Linked DNA regions of Homo sapiens: region 2 is linked to region 1. Evidence: fine-mapped QTL for protein levels in blood plasma. A gene starts in region 1. The other region holds a variant in brackets. All regions are shown on one strand. Distances are from middle to middle.

Region 1 (5,383 bases):
TCTTCCAACCTTGTTCTTTTCAAAGCCAGTCTATCTGAAAGTTATTTTTCTTCTGCTTACTCTTTTCTCATAAGATGTATCCCTTTGTGATCCCAGTCCAAAATGGGGGGAAATTTGCTATAGTAACCAACTTTTACATGTACAGAAAATGGTCTAAATTCCATCAATCAATCTCTATCACAAGGTACCACCATTGAAAGACAGAAGGTCAAGAATGTAGCTCTGAATATTCAGTGCAAGACCCTGAAGATATTATAGATAGGTTATGCTAGGAAAAATCAAGATACCAAAAGGCTTAGAGCAACTTCAGAAAAGTTGTTTGGAAATAATAATTCAAGAAGAGTTCTACTTTGGCTAATAACTTACCCAAACAACTTGCAATAAAACAGACACTGAGAAGTAAGATGAAAACTACAGCAATAACCGAAGGTATCAGCTGGGGATGCATGCCTCCTTCCACTAGGACCAAAAGAAAAATAGAGATTAACCTCCTCTCAGCTACAAGCTAGGAAAGCTAATTCTACCAAGGAGCAATCTAAAAGTGACAGCAAACCAAATATTTCAGATCTAGAGAAGAGCATAAATATTTTCTCCAAATAAATCAATTTTAGAGCTTATTGATGAATAAATAAATAAGAAAGAAAAATGTAAAATTTCTTGGTAATTTTGAAATGAAAAGAATTTTATAAGTAAGATACAAAACCCAAGAGCCATTAGAATAGATAATTTGAGTACATAAAAATTAAAACTTCTATATAACACAAGCAATGTTAGAGTCAAGGAACGTATGAAAGGAAAGTCTTCTCATAATATTAATATCCGCACTGGATAAAGTATTTCAAAATCAACTAGAAAACTGAGCAAAACTCTGAGCAGGAAATTTGCTGAAATTTTAATTTGCTGAAGTTATAAATAGCCACTAATCAAACAAAAATATGCCCAATCAGGGAACTGTAAACGAAAAGATTGTGGTATAACTTTTCACACATCAGATTTTTTAAGTAAATTAAGTACATGCAGTGTTGGCAAGGCTGAGGGGAAATAAGCACTCTTAGTGAGAAAATAAATGCTGCTGCCTGGACTGGAAAATTAGGAATGCCTTTTAGAAGGATCAATTTAGTGGCATTTATCCATTTTTAAATGCATTTCATTTGCCACAATAATTTCAATTACAGGTGTCTATTCTATAGAAATAATTGAGCTTGTTTATGTTAAAAGATATTCATTGCAGTACTTCTCAAAATAGAAAACACATACTGTAATCTAATATTTACATGTATATTATCAATAGTGGAAATTCTAAATTATGGTCCCTTCACACAATGATATTCTGTATAGTAATTAAATAAGCATGTAATCAGTATATATTGATGCAAAAAATCTCTAAGAAATATTGTTACCTAAAAAGGTAATTCAATAGGATCACACTGTGATTACAGTTTGCCATGGTAGGGTGATGAGATAAAGTAAAACTTTAATTTTAATTTAAACATTTCCACACTTGTTCTATATATCTATCAAAAATATTATTTAATATTATCACAATACAAATCCACTGGTGTCACTTAAGTCAAACATAAAATGGGACAGTTAGAGCCTCTGATACAGCATAAGCCTAAATGCTTTTTCTACATCTTCCTTTTCTCTTTTTTCTTTAAAAGAATCTTCTCATATTACTCTCTTTCTTTTCATCTTATTTCTCTTTTATATATTTTATCTCCCCTCTTGGTCCAATATACATTTTATAAAGAAGTTTCTGTTATCCAACTTATTTGACTCTATGTCCTTCCTCTTCACCAACGTCATTTTTATTTCCTTCCACCTCCTTCTCCCCGTCATCATCAACAATCTTTAAAACTACCATCAATTCATATGTTTTAAATTAGTATAATTCCATCTGCTTCTTTGAAATGGAAAGGAGAGAAAGTACTCACGTTTACTTTGAGGTTTTTCTAGCCCCATTGTCTAATTAGTCTCTTGTTCAATGGTCAGGACGGCAAGAATTTGTTCTATTTTTTTTCCCCCAGAGTATATTTCTGTGGATAGGGGAATATATTCAGAAATACTTGAGATCGAACACCAATGTTACATATTGTAGTGAGATTAGAAAGGTACCAGTATAAGAAAGTTAGCTCAAAAGAAGTCTTTTTCAAAGACAGGGGTTTCCTTTGATACATTCCGGGAGATGAGGCGAAAAAAAAAAAAAAAGGAAATTGAGAAAGCAATACCAAACAACAGTTAGTAGAAACCCACAAGTATGTTGAGATCACTAGATCAGTGTGAAATGTGGAATTTCTCAATTTGTTTTTTTTTTCATTTAGACAAAAAATTTAGCAACGCCCTAAAAGAAATAATTGTTATGCCCAATAAAAATTTAGTAAATGTCCCCTCTTTTTAAATTCTTTTTGTGAATATTATATTTTCAAAGGCAGTTATATTCTTGGGGTGAGTTCTATACTAAAAAGTTCTCTGGACTGAATAAAAAGTTGAGTCTAAGAGAGCAAAAGACAATGTGAACAATGAACAAAAACTTTTAAAGTATACCTTGTGTGTACATGGCATGTGAAGACACAGCAACCTTTGTTTTCGAGTTGAGGAAGAGATGATAGAGCAGTTAATTAAATCCCAAGAACTTTCTAGGTGAGCAAAAAGAGTTGTGTTAAGGCAAAGACAAAGAAAATGTAAGATTCTGTGATAAAGACACCATCAGGGTCCCTGACTTCATTTATAGCACTGTTAGGGAGTGAATGTCTGTATCTCCTCAAAATTCATTGGTGGAAGCACTACCCTCCAACGTAATGGCATTTGGAGGTCAAAAGTTTGGGAGGTAATTAGGTTTAATATGAGGTCATGAGAATGGGGTCCTCATGATGGAATTATAAGAAGAGACCCGGCTAACGAGCTGTTTACTTCCTGCGGGTGCTCAGGCTGTGGCCATCTTCCTTGCTGTTGCTCTTCTCATTGGAGAAGATGGCCCTGGAGACGGTGCTGAAGGACCTGTGGCATCTGTGGGCCTGTTTGCTGTGTTCACTGGTCAAGGTACTATAGACCAGTTTGAATATGATGGTTGTGACTATTGAGATGCATATCTACAGATGAAGGGTAACTGAGAGATGCTATATGGCTGCACCAGCTCCTCCTTTGATGGAATCATTGCGATGATGAGTCCAGAGGACAGCTGGGTCTCCAACTGGCAGCGAGTCAATAACTTTAAGCCAGGTGTATATGCGGTGTCAACCACTGGTCGCTTGCCCTAAGGAATCGTGCGGGAGCTGAAAAGTTGAGGAGTGGCCTACAAATCCAAAGACACAGCTATAAAGACCAGACGCAGGGCTGCCAGCGTCTTTGCTCTCCACCTCCTGCCTCTGCTTATTTTTTGTTCTGGAACTAAATGGGCAGAGCTTCAAATGCTTCCTACCCTCCAATTCAGACTCAGCCAACTGTTGAGAGAACAGCACATCATTTTATCATTTTACCTTATTTGGACTTCAGGTGGGGGTGGGAGGGATTTGGGTTGGTGGATTAACAGATGGAATTGAGGAGAGAGTAGGATGCTGACTTTCCTACCTGTAGCCCAAGGCTGCGCCTTGCTCATGAAGAGGTCTAGGTCAAATGTCAATAAATAGAAACCTCTAGAAAGTTCTTAAGGCCATGACACCTGCCTCGCTTCCCTCTTCCTTTCTCTTAGGCACACAGTAAGAGCTTATTTGCCCTATAAGATACCTTCCCAGAGCAGCAGAGGCCCTTCCACTCCCTCTTGACTGTCTCAGCCTCCAGGATTGCAGCCTTTGTAGTGTGCTTCCTTGCTTCCTATCAGAAGGTGCTGTCCAGAGGCTCAGTAACCCCATCAGCTTGGTGGCCCTGGTGTCTTGTGCTTGTATCCTTCTGCCCTTGAGACCTGGCACAGCAGTATCCCTTGAAGAAATCCTGAGGCTTTGTCGTGCTCCTTGCTCCTTGACCATGTTTAATAATTCTTTTCCCCCTCTGCTCGTCAGTTTTCTTCTCTTTACTGCTCTTCCTATATCTTAGGCCAGTCTCACACACTCACATTTTACATTTTCCTTACTGGAGACCCTTGGGCCTTGGCCGACTGCTGGGTCCTAGTCTGCCTTGTTTGTGCCCCTGTAGGAGGCAGGTCCTTTTCTCCGCCGGCCCAGTAGGGGACCTTGGGTAACATCCCATTTTTCGGCCAAAGTGAGTTATTTGTTTTAGGATAAAAAATTTACTACAAATTCTCATTTACTTAAATTTCCACAGAAATCCTGTTAGTGTCCCCATTTTGATTTCCCTAAGTTCCTTGTTCTCCCTCTGTAAAAAAAGAATGATTACACCTTGCCTGTTTACCTCAGGAATGTTGTGATTGTAGAAACGAAGCTATGTGAAAATTATGCAGCCATAAAAAATGATGAGTTCATGTCCTTTGTAGGGACATGGATGAAGCTGGAAACCATCATTCTCAGCAAACTATCACAAGGACAGAAAACCAAACACCACATGTTCTCACTCATAGGTGGGAATTGAACAGTGAGAACACTTGGACACAGGAAGGGGAACATCACACACCGGGGCCTGTTGTGGGGTGGGGGGAGGGAGGAGAGATAGCACTGGGAGAATGAGGAGTTAATGGGTGCAGCACACCAACATGTCACATGTATACATATGTAACAAACCTGCACGTTGTGCACATGTACCCTAGAACTTAAAGTATAATAAAAAAATTTAAAAAAAAATTTAAAAAAAGAGAGAGAGAGGAAAAAAAAAGAGAGATGAGTTCTCCAGAAGGCAGTCATCTGCAAGGCTAGTAGAAAGCCCTCACTGGTAAAGTGGTTAATTTGACAGGACTCCAAGAACAAATTTACATGACCTGAAGGAGGACACTTTGGGATTCATCACAGAAGCCACATAACCTACAGAGAGCAAAGAAGAGCGACACAGAGCAGCTGCCCATCCAGGATTGCCATGGAGCCAAGGGAGGCTCCCCACAATGGGGAAATGATGAGTGACAGTCCCTAGGGACCCACACTTCTGCCATGCTGGCACTCTGATCTGAGACTTCCAGCTATTAGAACGGTGAGAAATAAATGTCTCTCTTTCATACCACCGGTCTATGGTATTCTGTTATAGTGGCCCAAGCTCACTAAGACAAGTACATAACAGCTTAGAGATCCTTTAAGAAAGATCTCTACAATTTCCAGAATATAGCCCTTTCCCTGAACTCTTCCCTAAGCTACAATATTACTTTAATGATATGTGTGTATATATATTCTGTGATCTTCAGTGAAATATTACTTTACTATGTTAAATTGGGGATGGGAGGAGGTAAAATTATAGATTTGGCAATCCATATATTTTCCGGCACCGCCAGTCACTACAAGAAGTATTC
Region 2 (5,383 bases), 27 kb before region 1:
AAATTCGTGAGTCACTGGATGTGGGGATTTACCAAGTCATGTACATCATACTTATGCCTCCTGACTCGTGAACTTAAATAAACTGAGACCAGTGTGATCTTATTCTTAAGTATCTTTAAGTAAGGAGAAGGCACATATCTAACTATTCTTCCAGAGAAGCATTAATTCTTTTTTTTTTTTTTTTTTGAGACAGAGTCTCACTCTATCGCCCAGGCTGGAGTGCAGTGGTGCAATTTTGGCTCACTGCAACCTCTGCCTCCCAGGATCAAGCTATTCTCCTGTCTCAGCCTCTCAAGTATCTGGAATTACAGATGCGTGCCACCACACTTGGCTAATTTTTGTATTTTTAGTAGAGGTGGGGTTTCACCATGTTGGCCAGGCTGGTCTCAAACTCCTGACCTCAAATGATCCACCCACCTTGGCCTCCCAAAGTGTTGGAATTACAGGCATGAGCCACTGCTCCCGGCCCAGAGAACCATTAAATTCTAATATCTAATTGAAATTGCTTTTTCTGACCTTCAAATACATTTCTCCTACTGTAGGCTGTAACATAGAACTAAAATCCCCAAATAATTGAGAACAGGAGAATTAAACTGCCTGCTGGGTCTCTGAGACTTCAGAAGCTGCGTTATGTTGTGAAAAACTAAGCTGAGTTTCAAAGTGGTCTAATCACATGAGGCTGTCCTGCTGAGGGGGACTCTAGTAGTCAGCCTAGTAGTAGCAGCCTAGTAGTCAGCATAAGATAAGAGGGACATAAATCCACAACATTAGAATATTCAAGAGCTGCAAATGAAGAAGAAAGAAAAACCATAAAAGATGAAAAAGAGGACGGGCGCGGTGGCTCACGCCTGTAATCTCAGGACTTTGGGAGGCTGAGGCGGGCGGATCACGAGGTCAGGAAATTGAAACCATCCTGACGACCACAGTGAAACCCCGTCTCTGCTAAAAATACAAAAAATTAGCCAGGCGTGGTGGCGAGCGCCTGTAGTCCCAGCTACTCGGGAGGCTGAGGCAGGAGAATGGCTTGAACCCGGGAGGCGGAGCTTGCAGTGAGCGGAGATCATGCCACTGCACTCCAGCCTGGACGACAGAGCGAGACTCTGTCTCAAAAAAAAAAAAAAAAAAAAAGATGAAAAAATTCAGGTTGCCATGTCCTAAATACATACACTATATGCCCAGCTTTGTGCTATGTTGTCTAAGTCTTCTTTTCAGTTACCAAATGTGTGGATGGTACAGATCCAAAGTGAAATTCAGAGTGCAGAGGTGAGCTCCATATTGTCAAGGAAAAACTGGGGGATGAGTTATGCCTTGAAGAAACTAGAGACATTTGGTCCAACGAAACGAAACAACATTTAAAAAAAAAACTCTCCTGTTTCCCCATGGCTAGCCTATTTGTGTTGATGCTTACCATTTCATAATTTCCTCATTTTGTTGTTACATGGAGTGAAGAGAACTGACATGCTGTCCAATAAACTTCCTTGTCCTCCTTATGCAAGAAAGGAAATCCTGACTTAATGCGTAGCCACAGAACAAGTTAATATTCTACATCTATCGGAGCTGAACTTCCTAAAAGA[C/A]AAAGTGTTTATCTTTCAAGATTCATTCTCCCTGAATCTTACCAACAAAACACTCCTGAGGAGAAAGAAAGAGAGGGAGGGAGAGAAAAAGAGAGAGAGAGAAACAAAAAACCAAAGAGAGAGAAAAAATGAATTCATCTAAATCATCTGAAACACAATGCACAGGTAAAATCTGCAACTCTTCCTTTCCTTCCATAGATCTCTTTTTGGAACAAGTGATAAATATGGTGAAAGACAGGACAATAGAAAAGTATTCACTGAAGTTAAAAAAAAAAGTGGGGGGACAGAGGAAGAGAGAGAGAGAGATTTAAAGACTATTTCTTATACCAGAAAGCCTGCTGGCCTCTAGCTAAGGGAGAGCTATCAGTTTCCACCCTTTCTGCAATACATTGTGTCCCTTTTGGCAAGTCACTTCACTTCTCTGGAACTCTCTTTGTCTGTAAAATGTTTAATGGGAGGAAGAGAGGAACTATTAGATGACTGTTAACATTTTACCTAATTTACAAAGCGCTTGAAAAGTGAGACACAGAAAAAAAAAAAAGATCAGGAGAAGGACAAGAAAAGCAAAGACGAGAAAAGGGAAAAGAAAGAAAAAGAAAGAAGGGGGGCCTTAGAAAATACTGAAAAAAATTTAACTGAGAGACTTAGAAAGGAAAAATTGTATATCTGAGTTCATGAGTCAGAGTCTTACTCCAGGGGTGCTAAACGTGTGGTCCTCAGACCAGCAGCAGCAGTAGCCCCTGGGAACTTGTTGGTTCCATACAAACTCTACTGAGTTGCTAACTCTGGGGGTAAGGGTCAGCAATCTGTGTTTCCATAAACCCTCCAAGTGATTCTGAAGCATGCTGAAATTTGGGAATTACTCAGTACAAACAATGGAAGTAGAAGGAAATAAGTAAGGATGAATAAGAATCTCTTCTATCTCTTTTGTACCTTGCTTAGGGAAGATTGATCATGTTTGTGTCTTTCTTTCTACAGAGAGAGGATGCTTCTCTTCCCAAATGTTCTTATGGACTGTTGCTGGGATCCCCATCCTATTTCTCAGTGCCTGTTTCATCACCAGATGTGTTGGTGGGTTCTGAAGGTCAAATTCAATTTAATTCTTCCTGGTGCATATTAGGAGAAAACTCTTCCATGCTGCCTGTAGACTCTCTTTGCCCTCAAAGGGTCTTTCTATTTCACCCTTTTTTTTTTCCCTATTAATCTCTAGGTTATTTCTCAAACCAGAAACCTCAACAAGCAGGGAACTGTTTCTGAATTTTAATCACCTGTGACTTACTTTTCATGATAGACATTTTTCACTTCCTTGGCAGTCCTGAATCCTCCTCTTTCAGCCTCTATCATTAGTGTAACCTTCTCTAGGAGAGTCTGCCTTAGAGCTTGAACTACTGGTCGGCACCAGAGATATGACTAATTACTTTTGGAAGGAAGGGTAGAGAGAGTTGGACTTGGCATAAGAGGTAGTGCAAACATATCTATTTTCTCTGGGTCGTAAGAAAAAGCAGATTGTAAGAAAAAACATGATAATTATTGGCACTTTTGTTATAAATACAAAACTGAGGGAACTGACATTTTTAACCGAAATAAGACTAACAAACATTATGCCCTTTCTTTTACAGTGACATTTCGCATCTTTCAAACCTGTGATGAGAAAAAGTTTCAGCTACCTGAGAATTTCACAGAGCTCTCCTGCTACAATTATGGATCAGGTATAATAGTCCCAAAGGTGAACATCAAAATTTACAAAGCAACATTTTCTGGCTTCTAGATTGACTTTGGGACAGGTGAGATATAGCTGGATTAGGTCTTATTTTTCAAAAGCAAAATGTAAAATCCTAGAAATTTGGTGATGCAATTAGCATTGGGGCAGAAAGTCTTGGGGACATTATAGTAAACTTTTAGAATAAATTTGAGGGGTATGTCTGAACAGTAAATCTGGAAGTGGAAGGTATTATTCCCAGGAGTGTACCTTTTTTTTCATTCACCTACTTCCAAAATGAGATGGAGAAAAAACGTATGGAGTAGAGAATTTATAAATATCTCACAAATATACTCTCTATGCTCTTCTATGTCATCCTGTTGCAAGTCCTAGCAAAATGCTACATGACACTAAAAAAGTGACTTCCTTCTCTGAGCTATAATTTTCTCACCATTAAATTGAGAGAAGTTAGAAGAATTATTTATAATAGACCTCAAAGGCAAAAGTTCTGTAATTCTAAGAAATCTAACTGTAGGGACCAGCCCCACAGGGTTGGTGGGTCTCTCCCTGTGTCCAGAGACGAGAGCATGTAGAAATAAAGACACAAGACAAAGAGATAAAAGAAAAGGCAGCTGGGCCCAAGGGACCACTACCACCAATGCGCGGAGACCGGTAGTGGCTCCGAATGTCTGGCTGCGCTGTTATTTATTGGATACAAGGTGAAAGGGGCAGGGTAGAGAGTGTGAGTCATCTCCAATGATAGGTAAGGTCATGTGGGTCACGTGTCCACTGGACAGGGGGACCTTCCCTGCCTGGCAGCCGAGGCAGAGAGGGAGAGGAGACAGAGAGAAAGACAGCTTACGCTATTATTTCTGCATATCAGGGACTATTAGTACTTTCGCTAATTTACTACTGCTATCTAGAAGGCAGAGCCAGGTGTACAGGATGGAACATGAAGGCAGACTAGGAGTGTGACCACTGAAGCACAGCATCACAGGGAGACGGTTAGGCCTCCGGATAACTGCGGGCAAGCCTGACTAATGTCAGGCCCTCCACAAGAGGTGGAGGAGCAGAGTCTTCTCTAAACTCCCCCAGGGAAAGGAAGACTCCCTTTTCCTGTCTGCTAAGTAGCGGGTGTTTTCCCTTGACACTTAACGCTACCGCTAGACCACAGTCTGTCTGCCTGGCCACGGGCGTCTTCCCAGACGCTGGCGTCACCGCTAGACCAAGGAGCCCTCTGGTGGCCCTGTCCGGGCATAACGGAAGGCTCGCACTCTTGTCTTCTGGTCACACCTCACTATGTCCCCTCAGCTCGTAGCTCTGTACGGCCTGGTTTTTCCTTGGCTATGATTATAGAGCGAGGATTATTATAATATTGGAATAAAAAGTAATTGCTACAAACTAATGATTAATGATATTCATATATAATCATATCTAAGATCTATATCTGGTATAACTATTCTTGTTTTATATTTTATTATACTGGAACAGCTCGTGTCCTCTGTCTCTTGCCTCAGCGCCTGGGTGGCTTGCCGCCCACATCTAACCCATCTATATACTACAGTATGGAGATTTGATTGAGGATACATTGTTTAGGTAACATAAGAGATGGCTCTTTGGGGGTCACCCAAATAAAATGCATAAATTTCTCTGACATTAGTAGTCTAAGAACAGATAATAAGGTTCTATATCAATAGCATAACTAAGATAGTTTGCATATATAGTTGCATTTCCTGGCACTGACATCCAGAGAATGAGAATTACGTTCAAAAGACCAAAAACATTCTGTTTATGTTTCTTGACATTGGAATTATCTAAAGTCTTAGATACTAAGATGTAGGGTATGAACAAGTGATTCCAAGGCTTCTGACTTAAATGAGGACTCCATGGGGCCAGATGAAGCTTTGGGTTTTCTTATTCGGTTCACCTGGGACACTCACTGAAACATCTCTCATCCTAGGTTCAGTCAAGAATTGTTGTCCATTGAACTGGGAATATTTTCAATCCAGCTGCTACTTCTTTTCTACTGACACCATTTCCTGGGCGTTAAGTTTAAAGAACTGCTCAGCCATGGGGGCTCACCTGGTGGTTATCAACTCACAGGAGGAGC

Which allele goes with the higher level. Positions count from the first base shown, and alleles are read on the strand shown. Strength reflects both the effect of a copy and how common the allele is.
As copies of C replace A in region 2, the plasma level of the protein whose gene starts at base 2,192 in region 1 goes down (weak association).

What was found. PIP is the chance, under the fine-mapping model, that this variant and not a neighbour inherited with it causes the effect. Protein levels are from antibody-based Olink assays in UK Biobank. Linkage for the fine-mapping came from a reference panel and not from the study's own genotypes, which makes the PIPs less certain.
Region 2: its variant is fine-mapped to the plasma level of the CLEC4D protein (UK Biobank, PIP above 0.99).

Annotation. Positions count from the first base shown.
Region 1 is chr12:8,510,312-8,515,694 of GRCh38, reverse strand. CLEC4D (C-type lectin domain family 4 member D) reads right to left here and starts at 2,192. Exons shown (of 6, transcript NM_080387.5): 1 at 1,935-2,192; 2 at 367-459. The coding sequence starts at 1,962. It also overlaps the pseudogene SUPT4H1P2.
Region 2 is chr12:8,537,117-8,542,499 of GRCh38, reverse strand. It overlaps CLEC4E (C-type lectin domain family 4 member E), which reads left to right and starts at 1,595. Exons shown (of 6, transcript NM_014358.4): 1 at 1,595-1,739; 2 at 2,553-2,645; 3 at 3,194-3,283; 4 at 5,234-5,383. The coding sequence starts at 1,703. The variant C/A (reference allele first, on the strand shown) is at 1,575.